Linked DNA regions of Homo sapiens: region 2 is linked to region 1. The links come from fine-mapping of genetic effects on gene expression. A gene starts in region 1. The other region holds a variant in brackets. All regions are shown on one strand. Distances are between the middles of the regions. Region 1 holds the start of LRRC59 (leucine rich repeat containing 59). Region 2 has its middle 10 kb from the start of XYLT2.

What was found. PIP is the estimated chance that this variant, and not a neighbour inherited with it, causes the effect. A credible set is the group of variants that fine-mapping cannot tell apart.
Region 2: its variant is the best candidate, but not a certain one, in a credible set for the expression of LRRC59 in whole blood (TOPMed, PIP 0.86).

Annotation. Positions count from the first base shown.
Region 1 is chr17:50,395,532-50,399,531 of GRCh38, forward strand. LRRC59 (leucine rich repeat containing 59) reads right to left here and starts at 1,992. Exons shown (of 7, transcript NM_018509.4): 1 at 1,682-1,992. The coding sequence starts at 1,786. LRRC59-AS1 (LRRC59 antisense RNA 1) reads left to right here. Exons shown (of 2, transcript NR_199069.1): 2 at 1,685-3,026. RefSeq lists a silencer at 1,969-2,038.
Region 2 is chr17:50,333,815-50,338,334 of GRCh38, forward strand. No RefSeq gene overlaps it. Among named protein-coding and RNA genes, the nearest start is that of XYLT2, 10 kb to the right of the region's middle. The variant G/A (reference allele first, on the strand shown) is at 2,388.

The sequences.
Region 1 (4,000 bases):
GCCCTTCCTCAGAACAGGTACTCAATATCCATACATGTTGCCTGAATCATGACTGATCGAGTAAGTAGCGGAGTGAATGACAGAGTGAAAAAACAAGGCCCTGCCGGGTGCGGTGGCTCACGCCTGTAATCCCACCACTTTGGGAGGCTGAGGCAGGCAATCACCTGAAGTCAGGAGTTCGAGACCAGCCTGACCAACACGGAGAAACCCTGTCTCTACTAAAAATAGAAAATTAGCCAGGCATGGTGGCACACGCTTGTAATCCCAGCTACTCGGGAGGCTGAGGCAGGAGAATCGCTTGAACCCGGGAGGCAGAGGTTTCAGTGAGCCGAGATCACTCCTGGGCAACAACAGCAAAACTCCATCATCCAAAAAAAAAAAAGGCCCTCACAGCCCATCTCTATTTTCCCATGGTGTCCAGGCTGGACAAGCTCAGCAAAACTTTCTCCCTAAGGTTAATGCTGGACTGTTCAGATGCCTGGAGTATATGGTTTCAGAGAGCAGTCCTAGGGCAGGGTGAAATAAGGCTGGCCATCTATCTTCCTGGGGTAGAAAAGGAGGCATATATTCAGTTAAGGATCCTCTGGCAACCTGCACTTTCTGTCACAAAGTCGTAAAAGTGAAGTTTGACCACCTAAAAAAGTTTTAAATACTACAGCGGGAAAAACACAACAACAGCTACAAGTATCAGTATTTGCTCCTTCCAAGCATTTTCCATTACAATGGTATTTAACCTCCCAATAAGCGTATGAGATGGAAACTATTATCACCATTGTATAGATGAGGAGATCTAGGCATAAAGGCTAACTAGCTTGCCAAGGGCACTCGGCTATTAAGCAATGGAGCTGGGAGGAGCTAGGAACCCGGTTCTAACCACTGTAATACCCGTCCACGGTGGAAGAAAGACTGGGCCCAGCGCCCAAGGCAAATGTAATTTATCAACGGCAGAAAGCAAAGTGTGGGTCACCCAAAGTGAGTCTAGTAGGGCGTTGGCGCGGGTGGGAGGGGGAACGGAGTGGGAAAAGGAGGGATGTGGGAACTAGCTCCACGCTGACAAAACTAGATGCCTGCTATCTCTCTGGAGCTGTAAGCTTCAGTTTACAGGGGAAAGGTTGGGGGAGAGAGGGGCGAAAGGGACTCCCGCCAGTTTCAGCGGAATTCAGATGACAGTTTACCAGCCAAGCTGGGGGGAGACTTTACTTTCTTCGAGTTAGGCTGCCTCAGGGCTCGGGCAGCCAGCTGGAATTGCCAGCTTCCTAGAAGAGCCAGGTTCTGGGCCACACCCAGGTCTACCAGGAGGCCTACTCCCCTGGAACAAGTCACTCATTCATTCTCGAATACATCCAGTAACTGCTCCGTGTGCTCCTACTCAGAGTCGGGCACGGAGGTGGGCGCTGTGAAAGCCCCGCAAAGGTGACAGATTCGCTTCTTAGCCTGTAAAAAGCCTAGGGCCAGAGAAGCAGATCTTCCCTATGTTCTGGAACTGCGCCAAAGTGACACGTGTACATCCCGGGAAGAACCTTGGGCTGGACGCGGCCTCCTAGGGGACTTAGTCCCACCACCCCGCTTCTTTTTAAAGAAAAGGAAACTGATGCTTTTAGAGAAGAGGAAAGTAAGTGGCCCACGTAGGGGCCAGCGCCCGGCGAAGGTGGGCGCCTGGGCCTCGCGGGACGATACTGACCAGCTCCTTCACCGGGACCTCATTCAGGTCGCTGAGGCTCAGGTCCAGTTCGTTGCCGTCCAGCTTGTCGCGGAGGTTCCCGCCCTTGCTACCGGCCTTGGTCATGGTAACGCCGGCTGAGCGGGCCCCGGCTCCGGGGTTCCGGCGGGTGAAAGGAGCTGAAATGTCGCTTGTCAGTTCAGCGGCCCCCCACCCAAACGACGACGCCTGAGCCCTCCGTCGCCGCCGATGCGAGACCGCCTCCGCCCGCTGGCCGCACTCCGAGCCTCGCGCCTAGCTCCCACCGGTGCCGCGACGACGACCACTTCCGTGTCCACGTCACCTTCCGCGACCACTGAGATGGGCTGGGCCAGAGCGGCCCGAGCGTGTGCGGGCACGCCCCCTGGTGCCCAGGGTGATGCACTGCACGTCGCCGCCGCCGGAGGGGTGGGGTTGGAGGCTGCGAGCTCGGTTCACGTTCACCCGTGGCCCGCGGGCATTATTGCTGGCAGTGCCACGAGGCGAAAGGGCACGGACTGGGCGCCAGAAGACTGGGTTGACATCCAATACTGACCTCATCAGATCACCCCAATCCCCCTGATTAGGAGCAGAAGCTGGGTGTCCTCTAAAACTGCTCCCTGTCCTCTACTTAACCCCCGAATAACCATCATGGGGAAAACTCTTCTTCCTGAATTTCTCCTCTCTCCTCCCCACTCACTGCCTCAGTGCTTGTCTCTGTCCTTCCATCCACTTTCACCCAGCTCCCCGGTGATCTTTCTAAAAATCTGGCCAAGTCTCTCCCCTACGTAAAACCCTTCAAACTTGCAGCTACCTCTAGGATACGGACCACTTTCCTTTGGAAGCTGGGTCCTGCCTGCTTTCGCAGCTTCCTCACACGCTCCAGTCCCTGCCTGGCCTAGATGCTGTGTAGATTTCCAGGAGGTGGCTCCCACGTCTGGCCCTCCCCAGCGATGGCCCTCCCTCCCCCCCACTCACCTCTGTCTAGCTAATTCCTTAGTCCTTCAGGAAATCTCCCCTGAACACCGTGAATGCCAGACTGAGTTAGCGCCCCCCCCAACCAACTTAGGTCCCTGTTTGCTACTTTATCATCAGAGACAGTAGAGCTTGATGGCCAAGTGGGACCTCTGGCACTAATACCTATCCACTGGGTATTCATCCTGGCTCTGCCACTTGCTACTTATAAAACCGTAGACAATCACCAGGCTTCAGTCTTATCTATGAATCAATCTATGAGACATGTAGCTAACAGAGGTTGGGGAGAACTGAAGGAGTAAAACACACCAAGAGCTTACAGCAGTCACTGGCACTTAGTAAGTACCCAATAAATATTAGCTACAATTCATGATCCACCTTGTATTATACTCATCTTTATGTGTCTGTCCTTCATTCTGGACTGTGAGGACAGGGATTTTTGTCTTAATCATCTTCGTATGCCCAGAGTTGGCATACCCTGATGCAGGGTAGCTACTCATTCAGATGTCTGTTGAATAAATGAATAGATGGATGGATGAATGAATGAATGAATGAAGGAAGGAAGCACTTTACCCACTCCAAACCTCAGTTTACTCATTTTGAAATAGGGATATTAAAGCTTATCTCAGAGGGGCCGAGCAGGATAGCTCACACCTGTAATCCCAATACTTGGGAGGCCAAGATGAGAGGATTATTTGAGGCTAGGAGTTCAAAACCAGTCTGGGCAACATAGCAAGACCCCATCTCTAAAAAAATAAAAAATAAAAAATCTTGTCTCAGAGGGAAACTATGAACACCAAATAAAGTAAGTGCAATTGTTACGGGGGGTGGGTGGCAGGGGTCCTTGTTCTTAGAACTCCCAAGATGGTGGCGGGCCACTTCCAAGATGGCGGCAAGCCTCTTGTTCTCTGACCTGGGTTTCTTGGCCTCACGCATTCCAAGGAATGGAATCTTGGGCCATGCAATGAGTGTTATAGCTCTATTCAGCTCAATTAGGACAAATCCAGGCACTTAGCCACGCAGGAACAATGGCAAGCCTTTAGCCTGATCCAGAGCAGCAATGGGCGCCTCACTGGATCGGGAGCCCAGCAGACACCCTGCCAGATCCAGAGGGGTGGAAGTCAGCAGCGGGTCTGCGACAGCAGCAAACAGCAGTAGTGGACGGTAAGGAAAAGCTCAGCTCAAGCCGTAACAAACACGGACCAGAAAAGTGTGCAGTTGCAAGATTTAATAGAGTGAAAACAGAGCTCCCATAAAATGGCAGGGGACCCAAAGGGGGTTGCTGTTGCCGGCTCGAATGCCTGGGTTTATATCCCGATCATTGTCCCTCCTCCTGTGCTCTCAGGC
Region 2 (4,520 bases), 61 kb before region 1:
AAGAGGGAGACATCTGAGAGCAGGAAGTGTAGCAAGGAGACAGAAACCACAATAGCTCTGGTGGGAAACCATGATGGAGGCTGTAAATAGCAGACAAGACACGGAGAAAATAAAATTAACATGACGAAGGGCAAAATGATAAAAAGACGAAAAGAAAGAGGCAGGCGGTCAGACACGGGGGATATAACCTGGGAATAATCGGAATTCTGGAGAGAACAAAACAGACATAGGGAAAGCAGTATTCAAAGAAATGGGAGGGGAAAAGTTTCCTGCTGTAAAGAAAGAACTCAACTGGAAACTGAGAGCATGTTCTGACTTCCCAGCAAAGTTAATGAAAAGAGGGCCCCGCTTAGACACACTATGATGGAATTCTCAAAGTTAAAAAAGTTAAGAAAATTGCCGGAACATACACACAGACACACAGACACACCCTTGAAATAGGAAACTGAAAGGGAAGAGAGATTTTACTTTACTTCTTTTTCTTTTTCTTTTTCTTTTTTTTTTTTTTGAGACAGGGTCTTGCTCTGTTGCCCAGGCTGGTGTGCAAAGTTGCGATCTCGGCTCACTGCAACCTCTGCCTCCCAGGTTAAAGTGATTCTCATGCCTCCCCAGTAGCTGGGATTACAGTCATGTGCCACAACACACAGCTAACTTTTGTATTTTTTTGTAGAGAAAGGAGTTTGCCATGTTGCCCAGGCTGGCCTTGGACTCTTGGCTCAAGTGACCTGCCCGTAAAGTGCTGGGATTACAGGCATGAGCCACCATGGTTGGCCAGAGATTTTACTTTTCTATCTTTAGTTCTCTTGGATTTTTTTTTTTTTTTTTTTTTTGAGACGGAGTCTCGCTCTCTTGCCCAGGCTGGAGTGCACTGGCATGATCTCGGCTCACTGCAACCTCCGCCTCCCAGGTTCAAGCGATTCTCCTGCCTCAGCCTCCTGAGTAGCTGGGATTACAGGCATGCGCCACCATGCCCCGCTAATTTTTGTATTTTTAGTAGAGACAGGATTTCACCATGTTGGCCAGGATGGTCTTGATCTCTTGACCTTGTGATCCACCCGCCTCAGCCTCCCAAAGTGCTGGGATTACAGGTATGAGCCACCGCGCCTGGTCATATTTTTTTTAAAAAGTTTTTAAAACAAATTTAAATGCAGGAAGGGGCAGTGATAAATAAGGATCTTACAAACAAATGGGAAAAAATAACAGAGAGCTTAAATTAAAATGATCTCAGACTTCCCTTGAGCCCAAGAGTTCGAGGCTGCTGTGAGCTATCCCTCCTGAATAGTCTTCTTGAATAAATCACTGTCTTCTCAAGACTACAGCATGCAAAAGAAGAAAATGTCAATTTCTTTTTATCTCAAGTCATCATTAGAAATACATTGTACTTTTAGACCAGGCGTGCTGGGATTACAGGCGTGAGCCACTGTGTGGAGCTTTGTTTTTCTTGTTTTTCTGAGACAGGGTCTTGCTCTGTCACCCAGGCTGGAGTGCAGTGGCATGATCATAGCTCACAGCAGCCTCAAACCCTTGGGCTCAAGTGATTCTCCCACCTTAGCCTCCCAAGTAGCTGGGACTACAGGTGCACATCACCATGCTCGACTAACTTATTTTTTTTTATTTTTCATTGAGACAGGGTCTTACTCTGTCGTTCAGGCTGGAATGCAGTGACACAACCATGGCTCACTGCAGCCTCCACCTCCCAGACTCAAGCAATCCTCCCTGCTCAGCCTCCTGAGTAGCTGGGACTACAGGCATGCACCACCACACCTGGCCAATTTTTTTTTTTTTTTTTTTTTTTTTTAGTAGAGACAACCAGGCTGGTCTCAAAATCCTAAGCTCAAGCAATCCGTCTGCCTTGGCCTCCCAAAGTGCTAGGATTATAGGTGTAAGTCACCATGTCCCACCCCCATTCTATGTTTTTTAAAATGTAGCCATAATCCTTTAAATTGAGTGGGTTGTGACCTGTAGTTTGAACTACACTGATCTAGAAAAACCTAAAGGATAGGCCATGTTGTCATTCATGTATGAAGGCAACAAAAAGACCTCAGGTGTGGAAGTTATTTTTAAAAGAATCCCTCCTGAATACTCTTCTTTAATAAATCACTTGAAGATGTATGCCAGGACAGTAGAGAAAAAATCAGATGTAAATACTCAAGAATGAGAAAAATATCTAGCTTGAAGCACCTGCTTAGAGGTTTAGGGGAAGGAGAGTTTTCATGTCTTCTCAAGACTACAGATTGCTAGCACCTTTTTGCAATGTTCTGGCAATATCTTTTAAAAGAGAAATGTACATACCCATCTCACTCTTGGAAATCTATCATACAAAAATAAAGACACCAGTATATCAGGTGATATGAACTAAGATGCTTCTTGAAGCCATATGTGTAGGG[G/A]CAAAATAACTAGCAATGACCTCAATGCCCAATAACAGGTGAATGGCTTAATAAATTATGGTGTATCTATACTAAAGTAATAAACATTATGTAGCTATTATGTATTAACCTGGAGGGGTATCCATGATAAAATGATGATTTATTTAAAAACACAGTGTTGGGTAATTTCTGTATCATCTTACTTCTGTAAAACATGGAGTGGAAACCTACCAAAGGGTTGACATCTGCATATATTTATATGAGCAGAGAGAAGAATGTGGAAGCAACAAAGCAAACGGGCCAGGCTGGTTAATTCTAAGTAGAGAGCAGAGGGGAAAGAAAGGGAGATCATTGGCTGTTCTGAAACAGTTTTTAATTAATTCGTTGCCTTATTTTTGAAATTTTTGAACTATTTCTTTTGAGACAGGGCCTTGCTCTGTCACCCAGGCTGGAGTGCAGTGGTGTGATCATGGTTCACTGCAGCCTCACTCCCCTGAGCTCAAGCAATCCTCCCACCTCAGCCTCCTGAGTAGCTGGGACTACCGACGGTAGTCCCACATCTGGCTAATTTTGGTATTTTTAATACAGATGGGGTTTTGCCATGTTGCTCAGGCTGGTCTCAAACTCCTGGGCTCAAGCTATCTGCCTGCCTCAGGAAGTAATTTTTTAAATTATCTACTTGGCAAAGGGCATTGAACAAGTTAATATATATGCATTACTCTAAATATTTTTAAATAGTCTCAAAACTGAAGATTAAAAAAAAGAGAGATTATTCCCTTAAAAGAAATTAGCTACATTATAAACCAAAATGACAAAGTTCATAACCCCAGATGAACTTTTAACAAGTGAGAATGATCCTTGTTCACATAGTAGAGAGAGAAAAGAAGTGGGGATGAATAGGGAGAAACTAATTTTCTACAATGGGAAATAAAAATTATAGTTCTATGAGGACTGTGATCATTGAATATCTGTGAAGGCTAAAGCAACTCCATATTGGAGGCTAAGCCGCCATGATGACTTCTGATTAGCCCCAATTCTGGGAATTCCTCTAAGCTTTCCAGTCTATCTATTGTTACCTGTGTAAGAACAGGTACTTACCTCCCTTAGGTCAAAACAACTTTGATGTTATCATACTTCAATTGTCCTTCACCTGCCTTCTGGATCACATATACCCCTTCCCTGTGGTAGATAAGCCCTGGGTCTTAGGGGGTAACATCTTGTCTCCCTGCCAGCCACTGCACAAGACACAGACCTGGCTTCTGTTTCTAATTTCCTATTGTTTATTTCTAAGAAACTGAATTTGTCAGCCTTTTTCTTCAGTCTCTCAGTTTCCTTGGACTTTGGCGACAGGTTTGCACAGGCCTACCCACTGAGGAACAATGTCACATTAAAATTATCTGAAAAGTTGTAAGTAAACACAAGTAGAATTTTAAAAAGAATTCTAGAGCTAGCACAGTGGTGCACACCTGTAGTCCCAGCTACTTGGGTGGCTGAAGAGGGAGGATCACCTGAGTCCAGGAATTCAAGGCCAGCCTGGGCAATATAGTAAGATGCTCCTTGTCTAAAAAAAGAAAAAAAAATTTTTTTAAAGAATTCTAATTCTTGCTTTCTAAATTATTAAGGAAGATTATAGCAGACGAACAGTCTATATAGCCCTGAAAGGAAAATTAACAGCAAAATGCGTTTAAGGCCTAAAACTCAGGCGCAGTATTAAATGCTGATACTGACTTTATATGCGGTGAAATTGGGAGGCTTTGACTGGCCTAGCCACAAGTTCACCTCCTCACTCTGCTCCCTTGGATAAGGTCCCCCAGCCAAATAACCCCCCTTATCAAGGGGACCAGGAGCACTTCCTGCTTATTCCTGAGTAGTGGGTTTCAGTTTCCTGCCAGCCTGCAGCCTGCATAATTATCCACATAAGCCAGTCACATCTTCCTGCTGAAACTAGGGGACATCTCATCCTCTTGATACTACAAAGCCTGCCTCCCACAGCCCTTAGTTGCTCACTGTCTCTGAGCGCAACCCCTGTGTGGCCCTGCATGGTGTGTGATATCCTGCCCTGGGCTATGAGTATATGTGACTAATACACTACTGTCAATCTCATCTGCCCAGAATCAAATGTCGTGTGTTTGGCCATCTCTGTAAACCTAGGAT